Linked DNA regions of Homo sapiens: region 2 is linked to region 1. A link means that fine-mapping ties the variant in region 1 to the expression of a gene that starts in the linked region. Tissue or cell type: whole blood. Region 1 holds a variant in brackets; the other region holds the start of a gene. All regions are shown on one strand. Distances are from middle to middle.

Evidence for each region. PIP is the estimated chance that this variant, and not a neighbour inherited with it, causes the effect.
Region 2: it holds the start of FAM153A, and the variant in region 1 is fine-mapped to the expression of FAM153A in whole blood (TOPMed, PIP above 0.99).

The regions. Positions count from the first base shown.
Region 1 is chr5:177,712,044-177,720,304 of GRCh38, reverse strand. LOC107986489 (a long non-coding RNA gene) reads right to left here. Exons shown (of 5, transcript XR_001743020.2): 3 at 3,703-3,851; 4 at 2,621-2,752. It also overlaps a transcript of FAM153A not described here. Among named protein-coding and RNA genes, the nearest start is that of FAM153A, 67 kb to the left of the region's middle. The variant G/A (reference allele first, on the strand shown) is at 3,649.
Region 2 is chr5:177,778,398-177,786,397 of GRCh38, reverse strand. FAM153A (family with sequence similarity 153 member A) reads left to right here and starts at 3,499. Exons shown (of 23, transcript NM_001413826.1): 1 at 3,499-3,655; 2 at 5,894-5,949.

The DNA.
Region 1 (8,261 bases):
GGGCGTGTCAGGAAGCAGAAACAGTATCAGCAAAGGCGCTGCTGGGAGGCATGTGGGCAGTGTTTGGGGAACGGCCAGGGGCTTTCTGTGTCAGGTTTACAGCATCTGTGGGAGGCTGCGTTGGTAAATAACCCCAGAGAAGTAGGCTGGGGCTACTTACATTAAAAGTATGCATGGCTTTGAAGGCCAGCTGAGTGGTATAAATAGAAACTACAAATAGTATCACATTTATTGAGGACAGCTTGTGCTGCCAAAAGAGTTTTTAAAATTTTTTTGGATTGTGTAATTGGTGGATAAAGAATTATTGACCTAAATGTATCTGATCTTAGAGTGTTTTAGTATGCTAGATTATTGGAGGTGAAATGGCTAAGTCAAAGGTGATGAGTGTTTTTGAGACTCTTAATGTTAATTGCAAAATTAACCTCTAAAAAGGTAGGCCGGGCGCACTGGCTCACGCCTGTAATCCCAGCACTTTGGGAGGCCGAGGCGGGCGGATCACGAGGTCAGGAGATTGAGACCATCCTGGCTAACACGGTGAAACCCCGTCTCTACTAAAAATACAAAAAGTTAGCCCGATGTGGTGGCAGGTGCCTGTGGTCCCAGCTACTCAGGAGGCTGAGGCAGGAGAATGGTGTGAACCCAGGAGGTGGAGCTTGCAGTGAGCCGAGATCACGCCACTGCACTCCAGCCTAGGTGACAGAGTGAGACTCCACCTCGAAAAAAAAATAAATAAATAAAAGCCAGTGCCAGCTTAGACCATGACTGAGAGCTCTTGGTTTATCTTATCCTTGCCGAGCTGGGTGTTACAACATTGAAGCCTTCTGCAGTGTCCTCCCTCCCTTTTTCTCTCTTTCTCTCTCTCTCCTCCCTTTCTTCCTTTTACTTCTCTTAGGATAGGCTCGTCTGTACTTTTTTGATAGAGGTAACCATTTGCCACACCATTTTCTGAAGTGCCTGCTCTCTTCCCCATTCATTTGTGATGGCACATTTATCCTACCCTAAGCTTTGATAACGTGTCAGGATCTTTCTGTCCTGTCCTCTCAAAGAGGTTAAATATTTTTTTATAATAACTTATAATTGACTGAAGTTATAACAGTTTTCTCATGTCAAGTATAAAAACAGGCCAGGCGAGGTGGCTCACACCTGTAATCCCAGCACTTTGGTAGGCCAAGGTGGGTGGAATGCTTGAGTCCAGGAGTTTAAGACCAGCCTGGACAACATGGGACAACCCCATTTCTACAAAAAAAAATACAAAAATTATCCAGGCAAGGTGGTGCACGCGTGTAGTCCCAGTTACTCGGGAGGCTGAGGTGGGAGGATGGCTTGAATCTGGGAGGTGAAGATTGCAGTGAGCTGAGATCACACCACTGCATTCAGTCTGGATAATAGAACAAGACTCTATCTCAAAAAAAAAAATTGTATACTTTATTGACTCATTTATGTCTGATGGGTATTTTTGATTACAAATTGTTTAGTCACTACTTTAAGGCCTGCTTTATTTTTTTCTTAATTTTATTGACTCATTTATGTCTTAGTCTTTTTTATTACAAATTATTTATTGTTCAGTCACTACCTTAGAGCCTGTTTTATTTTTTCTTAATTTTATTGACTCATTTATATCTCAGCCCTTTTTATTACAAATTATTTATTGTTTAGTCACTGCCTTAGAGCCTGTTTTATTTTTTCTTAATTTTATTAAAGGATGATATTGATGATGAAATGTCTTACGATGATCATTTAGAGGTTTATTTCGAACAACTGGCAATTCCAGGAATGATGGAATAAAGCATACGAAGTAGAAGGACTGGAACCTCCAGAAAAAGTACTTTAAGTTACCTACAGGTGATCCTAGTCAGGTATGTTACAGTCTTAATGGCTTTTCAGAAATTTGACAGAAAATCACTGTTGATCTCACTGGATGTTTACATGAATTTTAAGCCTTTGGTTTTCTTTTAACTCTGTTTTTTACAGGTATGAATTGATAAGAAATGCCTGCACCTTCCCTCCTTCCTATCTTTCCCTTGCCTACAGAAAATTAAAAGGCAAAACAATGGACATCTACATATTCTTCATTCAGATCAACCAGTGGCTAGCATTTGCCACCTTTTGCAGTTTCTTTCTCTTTCCATAAGTACTTTCTTCTCTGAATCATTTGAAAGTAAGTTGAAAAGAGCATGATGTTTTACCCCAACACTTCAGCGTTTATCTCTTGTGAATAATGACATATTTCTATGTAATTACAGTTCTACCATCTAACTATAATACAGTAATTTGATGTACAGCCCATATTCAGATTTACCTAATTGTCTCCAAAATGTTCTTTATTTTTGTTTTAGATCCACAGTTTAATCAAAGATTAACCTTGCCTTTGGTTGTCACGTCTCTCTATTCTTTTACTTTGGAGTAGTTCTTTCAATACATGAAACATTTTGAAAAATCTAGGCTCTTTGTTTTGTAGAGTGACCCATAATCTAGATATATCTGGTTGCTTTTTTCTTCTCCTGACTAGAATAGATTGAGCATTTTGGCAAGAATACAGATTAAACAGTGTTCTCATGAGTGGATCCAGATTAAACAGGGAATAATGCCTAATTCAGATTAGGCAGTGTTGTGTACTTACCGCCTCACACCAGGAGATGTTTGCGTCTGTTTGTCCCACGATTGCTGATGCTATGTTTAATAATTTTGGTTGAGATAGTGTCAACTGGACATCTCCTTGTGAGGGTAGCTTTTCCCTTTTGTTATTAGTCATCTGTGGGATGAGACATCAAAGCACTGTGAACATCTTAGTCCCTGGCAACCTTCACGAGCTGGTTTCAGCATCATTGCCGAAGCCTCTTGGAAACATTGATTACACCCGTGGTTCCAATGGTGATTTTTCTCATTCCTTTTACATTGATTACCTGCCTCCTTGAGTAAGGTAGATGTTGTCTACTCCCCATGTTTTCCCTTCAAAATGTTTAATTTTAATTTAAATGATTAATACAGCTAAGTTATTCTTTCAACAGGCAAATGAAAACAGTAGCCTAAAGTGTCAGTTTCAACCCGAAAATAACAGCTCTGATTTCTCATGGCTCACACTCGTCTGAAATGACTCGGGTAGAGGCTGAGGAAGGCTGTGTTGTTTGTCTACCTGGGACTAGTAAGTATAGAAATAGAATTCCTTTGTTCTTAAATTCTACCTTTGACTTTACTTTTAAAATATAATTTCTTTGGTACGATTTAGCTCATGCCTGTAATCCTAGCATTTTGGGAGGCCAAAGAGGGAGAATTGCTTGAGCCCAGAAGTTTGAGACCAGACTCTACACACACACACACACACACACACACACACACACACTAAGCGGGAATGGTGGCATGCTACTGTGGCCTCAGCTACCTGGGAGGCTGAGGTTGGAGGATCATTTGGACCCAGGAGGTGGAGGCTGCAGTGAACCATGATTGTGCCACTGTACTCCAGCCTGGGTGACAGAGCAAGACCCTGTCTCACAAAAGAAAAAGAAGAGATCATCTATTAGTCCTCTTGATTTTTGTTAAAATGTGTTATGTGATAGTTGATAAGCTTTATGCATATGTCAATCTGTGGCCATTTAATTTTGGGCTAAGGACTTGTTCTATTATAGCACAGTAATCATTTTACTAAATAGT[G/A]ACTATTTGTCATTAAAAACAATATATTTAGTTTTAATACAGTTGAATACTCACAAATTTCTGGGGGAACTTGGTCAGGACATTTCAACTGAGAATTGTCAGGCACCTTCTCGCTGATAGGCATGCTGCTCGGTGGTGCAGCTCATAAGCAGACAACCCCCTTCATGTAATTTAGTAGGAAAATGACAGAAATACTTGTGTAACTATAAAGTAAAGCAGAATTCTGGTTATTGAATCACAGCACCTACTGAAAGAAGTTCTCAAGTTCTGATTGAGTTCTAAAATTCTTTTGAAGATTGGAATTCTTCATATGTAAGTAAAAACAATTTCTGATGACCCATTTCTAGTCCATCTCCTAAAGAAGTATTTAATCTGGGCCATGCATGGTGGCTCACGCCTGTCATCCCAGCACTTTGGGAGGCTGGGGTGGGTGGATCATGAGGTCAAGAGATCAAGACCATCCTGGCCAACATGGTGAAACCCCATCTCTACTAAAAACACGAAAATTAGCTGAGCATGGTGGCACGTGCCTGTAGTCCCAGCTACTCGGGAGGCTGAGGCAGGAGAATCACTTGAACCTGGGAGGTGGGGGCTACAGTGAGCTAAGATTGCGCCACTGCACTCCAGCCTGGCAACAGAGCAAGACTCCATCTGAAAAAAAAAAAAAAAGTATTTAATCTAAGCTGGGCATGATGGCTCACTCCTGTAATCCCAGCACTTTTAGAGGCCAAGGTATGAGGGTTACTATAAACCAGGAGTTTGACACCAGCCTAGGCAACAATAGCAAGACCCCGTTTCTACAAAAAAAAATTTAAAAATTAGCTGCGCAGGAGGCTGAGTTGGGAGGATCACTTGAGCTTAGGAGTTAGAGGTTGTAGAAAGCTATGATCATACCACTGCACTCCAGGCTGGATGACAGTGGGCCCTGTCTCTAAAACACAAAAAAAACTAACAAAAAAAGTGTTTAATCCATAAGATGACCACATTTATAGGAGGCTCCCAGCAATCTTAGCCTGAAGCCATGAAGGAAGACGCAGTGTGAAGGCAAGTACAGGCTGGCCTCTGGCAGCTGAGGATCAGGACAGGATGTGGAGTGAACCTCCACATCAAAGCTTTATTGCTTGGATTGGAAAAAAAATTCCTATCTGTAGGTCAGCCTTAAAATACACCATTTCATAAAATATTGTCTTTCCCATATTTTGAGCCCATGCAATTTGTGCTACCTGAGGGAACAGTATTGTGTCCTTGATTTGGTGAGATCAGTAGCTTTCTTATCTTATTGAGTGACAGCTACAGAACTCAGAAACAGAAGCTGCATATTAAGCAAATTTACATCTTTCTTGTTATAATATTATTGTGTATAAGAAATAGAGATGGCCGGGTGCGGTGGCTCACGCCTGTAATCTCAGCACTTTGGGAGGCTGAGGCAGACGGATCACAAGGTCAGGAGTTTGAGACCAGCCTGGCCAACATGGTGAAACCCTGTCTCTACTAAAAATACAAAAGGCAATAAGAGGTTCTATGTGGACTTTGAAGGTCGTCTCTATCAATTTGAGGTTGGGAAGAACAGTTTTGTTGACATCCTTTAGCTGTGTTACAAGTACAATTTTGTTTTTTACTCAGGCAAAAGAAAATGTGTGTGTGTGTTAAATACAGTCAGCCCTCTTTATCTGTGGGTCCTGCATCCTTGCTTTCTACCAACCTCAGATCAAAAATATTCCAGAAAAAAAAGGATGGTTGCATCTGTACTGAATATGTACAAGCTTTTTTTCTTGTCATTCTTTATGCAATAAAGTATAACAACCATTTACGTTGCATTTCCATTGTATTAGGTATTGTGGGTAATCTAGAGATGATTTGAAGGATATTGGAGGGTGTGTCCAGGCTGCAGGCAAGTACTATGGCATTTTATGTCAGGGACACCTACAGATTTTTGTCTCCAGCCATGGTTCCTGTATAGTTTAACATTTCCACACGCTGAGGGTGTGATGGGTCTGAGTTGGGTTGGTCCCCCATGTTTGAGGAAGTGTGCCCATCATGATTGTACACCCTTGTTGTAAACTTCGGATATGTCTATTTTGATATTTAAAACATTTTCAGGTTAAGTCTGAAAAATGCCAAGATAGTAACAATATTTTAAAAGGGAATTCAGAAGTATTACTATAATAATAGAACTCATTATTAGAACATTCTAATAGTAGAAAAGGAAGTCTATTTATTTTATAAAATTGTCAGTTCAGCTTAAGATCTAATAGTCTTTTCCAATTAGCATCAACTTAATTGAGACTACCTCAAAAGAAGAATTTAACACTTATTTTTGTAGAAAAAAAGCAATTTTAAAATAGCCTGGGAAAACTTAGGTAAGTTTTCCTTAATCCTGACTCCTAATTTGTGGCTAGAAGTGGCAATGATATGAACATAAGTTGTGCTATTTGTTAATATATTGCTTTTCATAAATCAATCCCTTTTTTGTAATTAGGTAAAAAGAGAAGAGAAAGACATTCTTGATTTTGGTGACTAGAGTTGTAGATGCTGGAAGCTTTGCCACTAACATTGATGAACCAGATGCATGTCACCAGCCCATCACGGTGATTCTTAATGCCGTTAAGTATGAACATACAGTAAAATACTGTTGATAGAATACATCGGTCTTATGAAATGTTTTGGTTAAGGATTTTTTAAACGAATTTCACATTACACAACTGGCTTTACTAAATCTGAGTCTTGTATTTCTGAACAGGGCACCATGGGCCGGCACTGCCACGTTTTCCAAGGAACCTGCCAGAGCTCCTGCGGAAGCTGCTCCTCGGGCGATGGAGTCCCTTTGCTGCTAGGCCCTTCTTCAGTCACCACAGGATGCCTGCCATTCATGAACAGGAAGGAGAGGACGGGCTTTGAATAAAAAACAGGTAAGTTTCCAAACTGCTTTTTTTCATCAAGATTTCAATCTTGGCTGGGCAAAGTGGCTCACGCCTGTAATCTCAGCATTTTGGGAGGCCAAGGCAGGCAGATCATGAGGTCAGGAGATAGAGACCATCCTGGCCAACATCATCTCCTCAGCACCCAGCTCAGTCATTTAGACAAAGAAAATATGTAAGATGACCGAGCACGGTTGCTCACGCCTGTAATCCCAGCACTTTGGGAGGCTGAGGTGGGCGGATCACGAGGTCAGGAGATCGAGACCGTCCTGGCTAACACGGTGAAACCCCATCTCTACTAAAAATACAAAAAAAAAAAAATTAGCTGGGCATGGTGGCAGGCACCTCTAGTCCCAGCTACTCGGGAGGCTGAGGCAGGAGAATGACGTGAAGCCAGGAGGCGGAGCTTGCAGTGAGCTGAGATCGTGCTACTGCACTCCAGCCTAGGCAACAGAGCGAGACTCCTCAAAAAAAAAAAAAAGAAAAGAAAGAAAAAGAAAACACGTAAGAAACAGTTGCCAAAATAATTGAATACAGGATCTTCAACTGAGATTATTTTCTTTGTTAGGATCCAGGAAATATTTGTGAGGCCATTTGGACTTCAGTGTGAAATGGTGTTAAAAGATGAAGTCATTTATTCAAGAAGTAAACCTCTGCCACCTGGACTGTGCTCAGACATTTCATTGATTTTGTTTAATAAACATTTTCTGGCTTTGGGAGGTGTCTCTCTTGGTAGAGCACAGTGTCAAAGATGGACAAGATGGACACATAGTCCATTATTTGGTATTGTTTGTGTATGGGAGCGGACCACAAATTAATGTTTGGAGAACAATTTTGTCATAACACACTGTTGAGGCTCAGTTGTACAGAACTGGAAAAGTCTTTCAGCTTGGCACATGTCCTGATTCAGCCTTTGTTTAACATACATTCCAATCCGGATTCTATCTTCACTGGCTACAAAGACCACCTGATACGTGCACCACGACACAGGAGCTGCTGGAGAGGGGGTAGTGTTATCACCTCAAACCCACAGCCATATTTTTCAAAAGCCAGCTTAGAGAGAGGTGTACTGATAGCTGCATAGAGAACATGCAGTCCATCCATTCTTCCCAGTGATGTACATTTCTCAATCAGTAACCACGTGGTATACCAGCCTTGAGTGTCACATCTCCCAACCATACCAAATGGATCACCTAACTGGAGGTGGGGGGGGCCCCTCAGAAATGAGATTTCGTATTTACTGTAAAATTGCCTTATTTTTTCTTTTGAGGTGGAGTCTCACTCTGTTGCCTGGGCTGGAGTGCAATGGTGTGATCACTGCTCACTGCAACCTCCGCCTCCTGGGTTCAAGCAGTTCTCCTGCCTCAGCCTCCCAAGTAGCTGCAATTACAGGCGCATGCCACCACTCCCAGCAAATTTTTATATTTTTAGTGGAGACAGGGTTTCACCATGTTGGCCAGGCTGGTCTCAAACTCCTGACCTCAGGTGATCTGCCCACCTTGGCCTCCCAAAGTTCTGGGATTAAAGGTACGAGCCACCGCAACTGGCTGAGAATCTTTTTATTTGCTGATTTGTCTCTTGTGTATTTTCTTTGTTCAGATGTCTCTTCAGATCTTTTTCTCACTTTTAAATTGTTTTTTTAATTGTTAAGAATTTTCTGTCTAGTTTAGATATAAGCCCTTTATCAGACATGTG
Region 2 (8,000 bases), 66 kb before region 1:
TGAGAACACATGCACACAGGAAGGGGAGCATCGCAGACCAGGGCCTGTTGTGGGGTGGGGGGAGGGATAGCATTAGGAGATATACCTAATGTAAATGATGAGTTAATGGGTGCAGCACACCAACATGGCACATGTATACATATGTAACAAACCTGCACGTTGTGCACATGTACCCTAGAACTTAAAGTATAATAAAAAATATATATATATAAATTTTATTGGGACTATTTTGATTCTACACCACTATTCTTTATTGGGTGTAACCCAGCAGGTCCACGAATAATAATAATTATTATTATTACCTTTTTTTTTGAGATGGAGTGTCACTCTTGTCACCTGGGCTAGAGTGCAGATGCGCAAAAGAGTGAGACTCTGTCTCAAAATAAATAAATAAAATAAAAACAGGAAAATACATTTGTTGACCTCCTGGGTTGTGCCCAATAAAGAATAGTGGAGTTTAATAGCGGTTCACTGCAACCTCCACCTCCCAGCTTAAAGCGATTCTTCTCCCTCAGTCTCCCAAGTAGCTGGGATTACGGCACCCACCACCATACTCAGCTAATTTTTGTATTTTTAGTAGAGACAGGGTTTCACCATGTTGGCCAGGCTGGTCTCAAACTCCTGACTTCAGGTGATCCGCCCACATTGTCCTCCCAAAGTGCTAGATTACAGGCGTGAACCACCACGTCCGGCCTAACAAATGATTTTTCATAGGTCACTGGACATCAAGGAGCCACTTGTGAACCAGGTGGAATGCAGGTGGGATGCATAGCACATGGCCCACAGGACCTGCACTGTGGGTTGGATACAGTAACGGAAGGGGCCTTTGGTCTTTCTTTTTTTTTTTTTTTTTTTGAGAGAGAGTCTTGCTCTGTTCCCCAGGCTGGAGTGCAGTGGCGTGATCTCGGCTCACTGCAAACTGCGCCTCCCGGGTTCACGCCATTCTCCTGCCTCAGCCTCCAGAGTAGCTGCTGGGACTACAGGCGCCCACCACCACGCCTGGCTAATTTTTTGTATTTTTAGTTGAGACGGGGTTTCACCGTGTTAGCCAGGATGGTTTCGATCTCCTGACCTCGTGATCCACCCGCCTCGGCCTCCCAAAGTGCTGGGATTACAGGCGTGAGCCACCGCGCCTGGCAAGGGACTTTGGTCTTTCTTGCTTGGGGCTGGGATGAGTGTGTACTTGTGAGAAGAAGGAGGCACAAGGCAGATTGGGTGGCCACAGCTGTAACCTGGAGCCACAGAGCAGGCTTCTGTTACACACTATTCTTCTTTTCTTCACTTTAACAGAACCATCCCTTGAGGTTTAGCTGGGGGCACCTGGCTGCCCAGCTACAGACTAGATTTTCCAGACTAATTTATATCAATTTTCTTTATTCCTTTAAAAGTTGTTTATTTATTGCACTTACATACTAAGATACCATTCTCAAAGGACCACGAAAGCAGAAATGGTTAATATATGAAGCTGTCTATAGGCATGATAGAATAAAAAGTTTAAAAATTATTTGGGTCAGGCTTAAATAACTTTAACAGGTTAAAAAAAGTGTTTGACAATATTCAACAAATAATTCTTCACCTAATTTCTTATTGAAGCAATCACCTTAATATTCATTGGCCTTGATAAATGTGAACACTGGTCATATTTATGTAAATAATGGTCATGTGGCTTTCTTGGCATATCTAAATTCATGTTAGATCTGGCTTAACCTGTGCTTATGTATGTATATGTTACAGTTATGTACATTAAATGTGTGTGTAAGAGTTGGAATTATTTGAAAGATAGCAAAATTTTAACTAGAAAAAATAAGTTAATATCTAATAATAGTTGACTTGTTGATTAAAATAAGTAGTTATTATGAAAGAGAAAAAAGGTGATTTCAAATTGATTCAGAAGAACTGGCCTAGCAACTAAGATTGTATGCTTTCCTTTTTTTTTAAAAAAAAAAAGAACGGATATAATGTTATGTGACAATTAAATACAGAAATTACAAAACTAGTTAAATTGATGTTGCCATTAAAGCAACATTAAATAGTTTTGGGGGAGAAGAAAGAAGCCGAGAAGATGGTATCTGTGCAGTTAAGATGGTCATGTCATTTGATACATGTAAACAGAAAGCAGCCTGAGGCCCACACCTGCACCATGCTGAAAGAGCTGACCAGCGTTATATGTTCAGTCCTAGATGAAATGCTGCATTTGTTTTTTAAACACTGGTATGCATTGTTTTAAAAATGTATAAAATAACAGTGAAAAGTTAAAGAATCGTAAGAATGTAGCTAAAGGTAAAAAAAATTTGCAAAGCCATAATTTTTATGATGAAACAATATATTTTTTATCTTTTACGTATAATGTTTTAATGCTTTTTTAGCCCAATGAAATGTGGAAGTGTTTTGTGATTTTTATCTTACTATAGTGATTGTTTTATAAACAAAGAAAAAATTAATTCAGGATTGCAGATATGGTAAACTATTAAAATAGTTTGGGTATTAAAATATGAAATAATTGGGTATTAATTCAAAATCCAAGAGTTGCCATTGAACAAACCTGTAGGCATAGGTAAGTGCTGAGGTGAAAGTGCCAACCAAAGCCGTTAGATTGAACATTTATGCCTGGAGGGAATCAGTAGAGGAACTGGCTGTGGACCTTCACCTCTGCATCCCCTTTGCTTTCTGCTGTAGCTGGGTATCACAAAAACAACAACAAAAGCCACTTATTTCTTAAAGACAGAGAAAGGATAGTTCCTTCCATTTAGGCATTCCTAAATTGCCTCCCCGGTGGCCCCTGCGCTCTTGGAGGAGGTCAAGGCAGAGCAGACCCTCAGGTGGGGGAGCGATGCACTTGACCCTGAGGACATCAGGTACCAGGCCCACTAGCCCCCGCAGGCGCGGAGCTGCGGCTGCAGCCACCAGCCTAGACGTGGCGCGCCCGCAGCAAGTGGCTGGACACCGCAGACCAGGCCCGCGTCCCCAGCAGCGCGGATCCCGGGGCCAGCCGCCCAGGCAGCAAAGTCAGGCGGTCGGCTTCGCCAGCAGCCGATGAGTCTCATCCTGTGGATTGCCCAGCGCCAGGGATCAGGATCCGGAGAGGTGTCCAGGAGGAGCAGACCCTCAGACCAGGTAGGCTGTGCACTCAGTGACCCTGACGCCATCCAAGGGAAGCTCCGCCATCCCGCGCCAGTGCCAGAGCTGCAACTGCAAACTGCGCGTCCTGGCACGAGCAGCGGTGGGGGCGGGTGGGGGAAGGAGCGAGTGACTCTCCAGGCGTCTTCCGCTACCTGACACCAGCCAGGCAGCCCCCAGGGCCAGAGCGTCAGCGCCGAAGCCAGGCTCATCCGGGAAGCCACTCCGGTGGCCGCGGGGTGCCCATGCCAGCACCAGATCTCTCTTCGGAAGGAGGAGCGGGGCGGGCTACACGGCCAGGCGGGCCCTCCCCTTAAGGCGGGGTGGGCCGCGCGCCTGCGATTTTCCGTCCGTGGTCCTGGGGCAGCCCTGGCCAGCCCAGGAGAACCCGCGAGCCCAGCGGCGCCTGCACCTGCGGCTTCCGGGAGCCGGGCGGCTTTGCGAGGCTCACTAGGTCTGAGAGGTCGGAGGCCGCCAGTGTCGCTGCTGAAGGGTGGACCAGGCGGGATCGCGGATTCTGGGCTAGATCGCAGACTTGGTATCGCGGATTGGGATTTGGATCGGGGATTTTGAGTTGGATCACGGATTGGGGGTTGGATCACGGATTGGGGTTTGGATCGCGGATTGGGGGTTGGATAGGGGATTTGGAGTTGGATTGGGGATTTGGGGCTGGGTGTGGGGCGAGGGGGAGTGAAAAGGTGACACGGAGCTGCCGCGGCTCAGGAGCCAGTGGTTGGGGGTCTGAGAAGAACTCACCACCTTGAAGAAGTTCTTCGGCTTTGGGAGCCGCAGGGGCCGGCGGTCCGGGGCTCCCTAGGCCACGTCTACAGGGGTTCGGGGTACCGAATCGGAAGATCCACAGGGCGCTGTCAAGGGCGAAGCCGCGGAAGTGGAGCGCTGCCTGGCGCGCAGGAGCAGAGACCTGGAAGCCGGGGACAGGCAGCACAGGCAGTGGGGTGGGGGCTCAGCCCAGGGTGGGAGGGGGTCCCCAGGCCCGGCTTCCCCGCAGCCCCTGGGATGGGGCCTCAGAGGGCACCCTCAGAGGGGTGGTGCCAAACGGAGCCTCAGCTGCTCTGCATCCCCCATAATTCCCCAGCTGGAGCGCTTGGTGGAGAATGTGAGTGATTTAACTCACCAAGCTAAGCATACACAGTGTTATTTTTAACCTACACGTTTAAAACATGGTGTTATATACATTATAGGAGGTGCCTAATGAGAGAACTCATTCCTCTATCAAAAAATACCGTGAGTCGGCCGGGCGCGGTGGCTCAGGCCTGTAATCCCAGCACTTTGGGAGGCCGAGGCGGGCGGATCACCAGGTCAAGAGATCGAGACCATCCTGGCTAACACGGTGAAACCCCGTCTCTACTAAAAATACAAAAAAAAAAAAAAAAATTAGCCGGGCGTGGTGGCGGGCGCCTGTAGTCCCAGCTACTCGGGAGGCTGAGGCAGGAGAATGGCGTGAACCCGGGAGGCGCAGCTTGCAGTGAGCCGAGATGGCGCCACTGCACTCCAGCCTGGGCGACAGAGCGAGACTCCGTCTCCAAAAAAGAAAAACAAACAAACAAACAAAAAACCGTGAGTCATTTTCAGTAGCGAAAAGCTCTCACCTAAAACTGTCCGTTTTACATCCGTATCCACCTGTGTAGATCGGTTCTTTACTGAAGGTTCTTAGAAGGAAACTTGGAAGTGGGAGGTGGGTTCTGTGTTCCTGAATGGGAAGACACATTTTTCTCAAAATGTGAGCTCTTTCTGTGATTATCAATTTTACATAAGCCGAATGAAAAAATCAAGGTTTTAACATTTTTGCATGACACCTACTGTCTTTTACTATTGTAATGACATTTGTAAAAATTTTAGGGCTGGGCGCGGTGGCTCAGGCCTGTAATCCCAGCACTTTGGGAGGCCGAGGTGGGCGGATCACGAGGTCAGGAGATTGAGATTGAGACCATCCTGGCAAACACGGTGAAACCCTGTCTGTACTAAAAATACAAAAAAAAAAAAAAAAAAAAAAAATAGCCGGGCGTGGTGGTGGGCGCCCATAGTCCCAGCTACTCCGGAGGCTGAGGCAGGAGAATGCTGTGAACCCGGGAGGGGGAGCTTGCAGTGAGCCGCCATCCAGAAGTGCTGGGATTACAGGTGTGAGCCACCGCGCCCGGCCTGAAAAGTGCATCTTCATTTTACAGGGAATTCTTTCAAATCAAATAATCAAAAACTGTAAAAGGGGGCAAAGTACTTTTTTGCAGATCTACAAGTTTCTTATGTAAATAGGAAAAAAAGCCTTTGCTTTTCTGGTATAAGAATTTAAATTAAAAGAGGAATGAAACTGTTTTCTATCCACAATGTGTGAGGATGTTTTTTATACTGCTGCCTGAAGTTTAAGTTGCTGATTACTTTTTAAATAGATAATTTGGTGGTAAGTACTATATTTTAAAAATGCGTATGCCCGTTACCCTTCAATTCCATTATACTAAAATACCCTTGGGAAATAGAGATACATGCACTTTGTTTTTCACAGCACTTATTTTAAAAAGAACCCATAGAATGGATCTTATAAGTAAATTTCAGTTGCATCCATAGGATGCAATAATATGTGACCATCAAAGGTGACAATAGATATAGAAGTACGTTGATGTGCGAAGATGTATTTTGTTTTAGCCAGCGAGGAAAAAAGAATCAGTTTGATTACACATTTACCAAACATTAAGAATTTAATATGGTAACTTTTATTTCAGTATTAAAATAGCAATTTTATTTATTACTTTTTTATATACAGAATTCGACACCAAATTTTGGAACTTAAAAAGAAGATTCTTAAAACTTACAATCCAGGTAAGACTTCTGATAGTGAATTTCTCATTTCTCATGGTGGTCCTACTCTTGGTTTAAAAAAATTAAGATGTAAGATTAAGGTAGTTTTGAAGGAAAAGAAAAGTTTAAAAAGATGTGTAAATTGCATGTATATATACATATATACATACATGTAAATTAGTTTCTTATATTTAACTTCTTTAGTTTGGAATTAAGAGTTATTTAAGAAGGTAGTTGTAGCTGATTTATAATCTCAAACAGTATTATCTGAAAAAAAATCATTTACTTAATTATGATCCCGAAAATCCTATATAATATTTATGTTTTCTCTATAGTCACATTGTAACAAATTGGACTTGTTATACATATGGATCTTCTAGTTCATTTTTGTAATAAGTTGTTTATTTTTATAATAAATTGTTTATATTTAGTAAATACATAATTACACTTGACCCATGAATAATGTGGGGGTTAGGGGCTCTGATTCCAGTGCAGCTGAAAATCTAAGTATAACTTTTGATTTTCCCAATTTAGCTACTAATAGCCCACTATTGACTGGAAGCCTTCCTGATAACATAAACGGTCGATTAACACCTATTTTATTTGTGCTGCATTATTATATACTGTGTTCTTACAATAAAGTAAGCTAGACAAGTGAAGCTGTTAGAAAGAAAATCTGCAGGAAAAATATATTGACTTTTCATAAAGCGTAAATGGATCCTCACAAAGGTCTTCATCTTTATCATCTTCAGGTTGTTCAGGCTGAGAAGGAAGAGAGGTTGGTCTTGCTGTCTCTGGGTTGCAGAGGCAGAAGAAAATCTGCATATAAATGAACTCCTGCAGCTCAAACCCTTGCTGTTCAAGGGTGAACTGTATTACCTGTTAATTTGTGTCACTAAGGAAGTATCTTTAGAACCGGGAACTCAACAATCCCTTTCTCGTAGAATAAATAAATGGCAGTAAGAACTGTAAAAGTGAACCAGTGTGCACCCATACGAATAGGAGATTATTTTTTGAAGATACCTACTGAGTGCAGAAGACAGAAAAGCAATTCCTTTGTGAGAAGCACAAGTTATGTTACATATTCTTACATAAGCAAAATGGTTTTATCTGTCATAGTTTACACACACACGTGCACATACACACATGTGCGTTCGGGTGCGCACACACACACACACACGCACACAAAGTTAAAAGTCCTGCTGATTGTTAATGACCAAATCCACTGCTTGCAGGGAGTAGTGGATAACACAGCCTACAGCTTGCATGCAATTCTTTTGGCTTTTTGACTTGTTCTGTGATGAACTGCCTTGAATGGGTCAACCATATTTTAGTTTTATAAGAAATGAAAAGATTAGAAGCAAGTAAAAGGAACTCTATGATCAGTAGTTATACTATTATACTATATTCAATGGTTATGTTTTTTTCCAGTTATGCAAGTTACTTGAATGATGCACAATTAATTTATTATCATTATTATAAGAGATGGGCTCTCTCTATGTTGCCCAGGCTAGAATATGGTGTCTATTCAGTGGTACAGTCATAGCTCACTGTAGCCTGGAACTTCTGGGCTCAAGCAGTCGTCCCACCTCATCCTCCTGAGTAGCTGGGATTGTAGCTATGTGTAGTTACATCTAGCTGGATACACAATCATTTGTTTATTTATTTATTCATTTTTATTATTATTATTTTTTGAGACAGGTCCCCCTCTGTTGCCAGTACTGGAGTGCAGTGGTGGGATCTATCTTGGCTCCCTGCAACTTCTGCTTTCTGGCCTTAAATGATTCTTTCACCTCAGCCTCCCAAGTAGCTGGGACTACAGGCATGCCCCACCACACTTGGCTAATTTTCCTTTTAAGGTTTTTTTTTTCCTCACTATATTGCCCAGGCTGGTCTGGAAGTCTGGAACTTCTGGGCTCAAGTGATCCTCCTGCTTTGGCCTCCCAAAATGCTAGGATTTTATGGATGTGAGCCACCACACCTGGCCTGCACAATTATTATAAAAAGGAATTAAGCCCAGTTGAGTTGCAGAAAATTGACCACCTTTTCATTTTTTTTTTTTTCTAGAAACA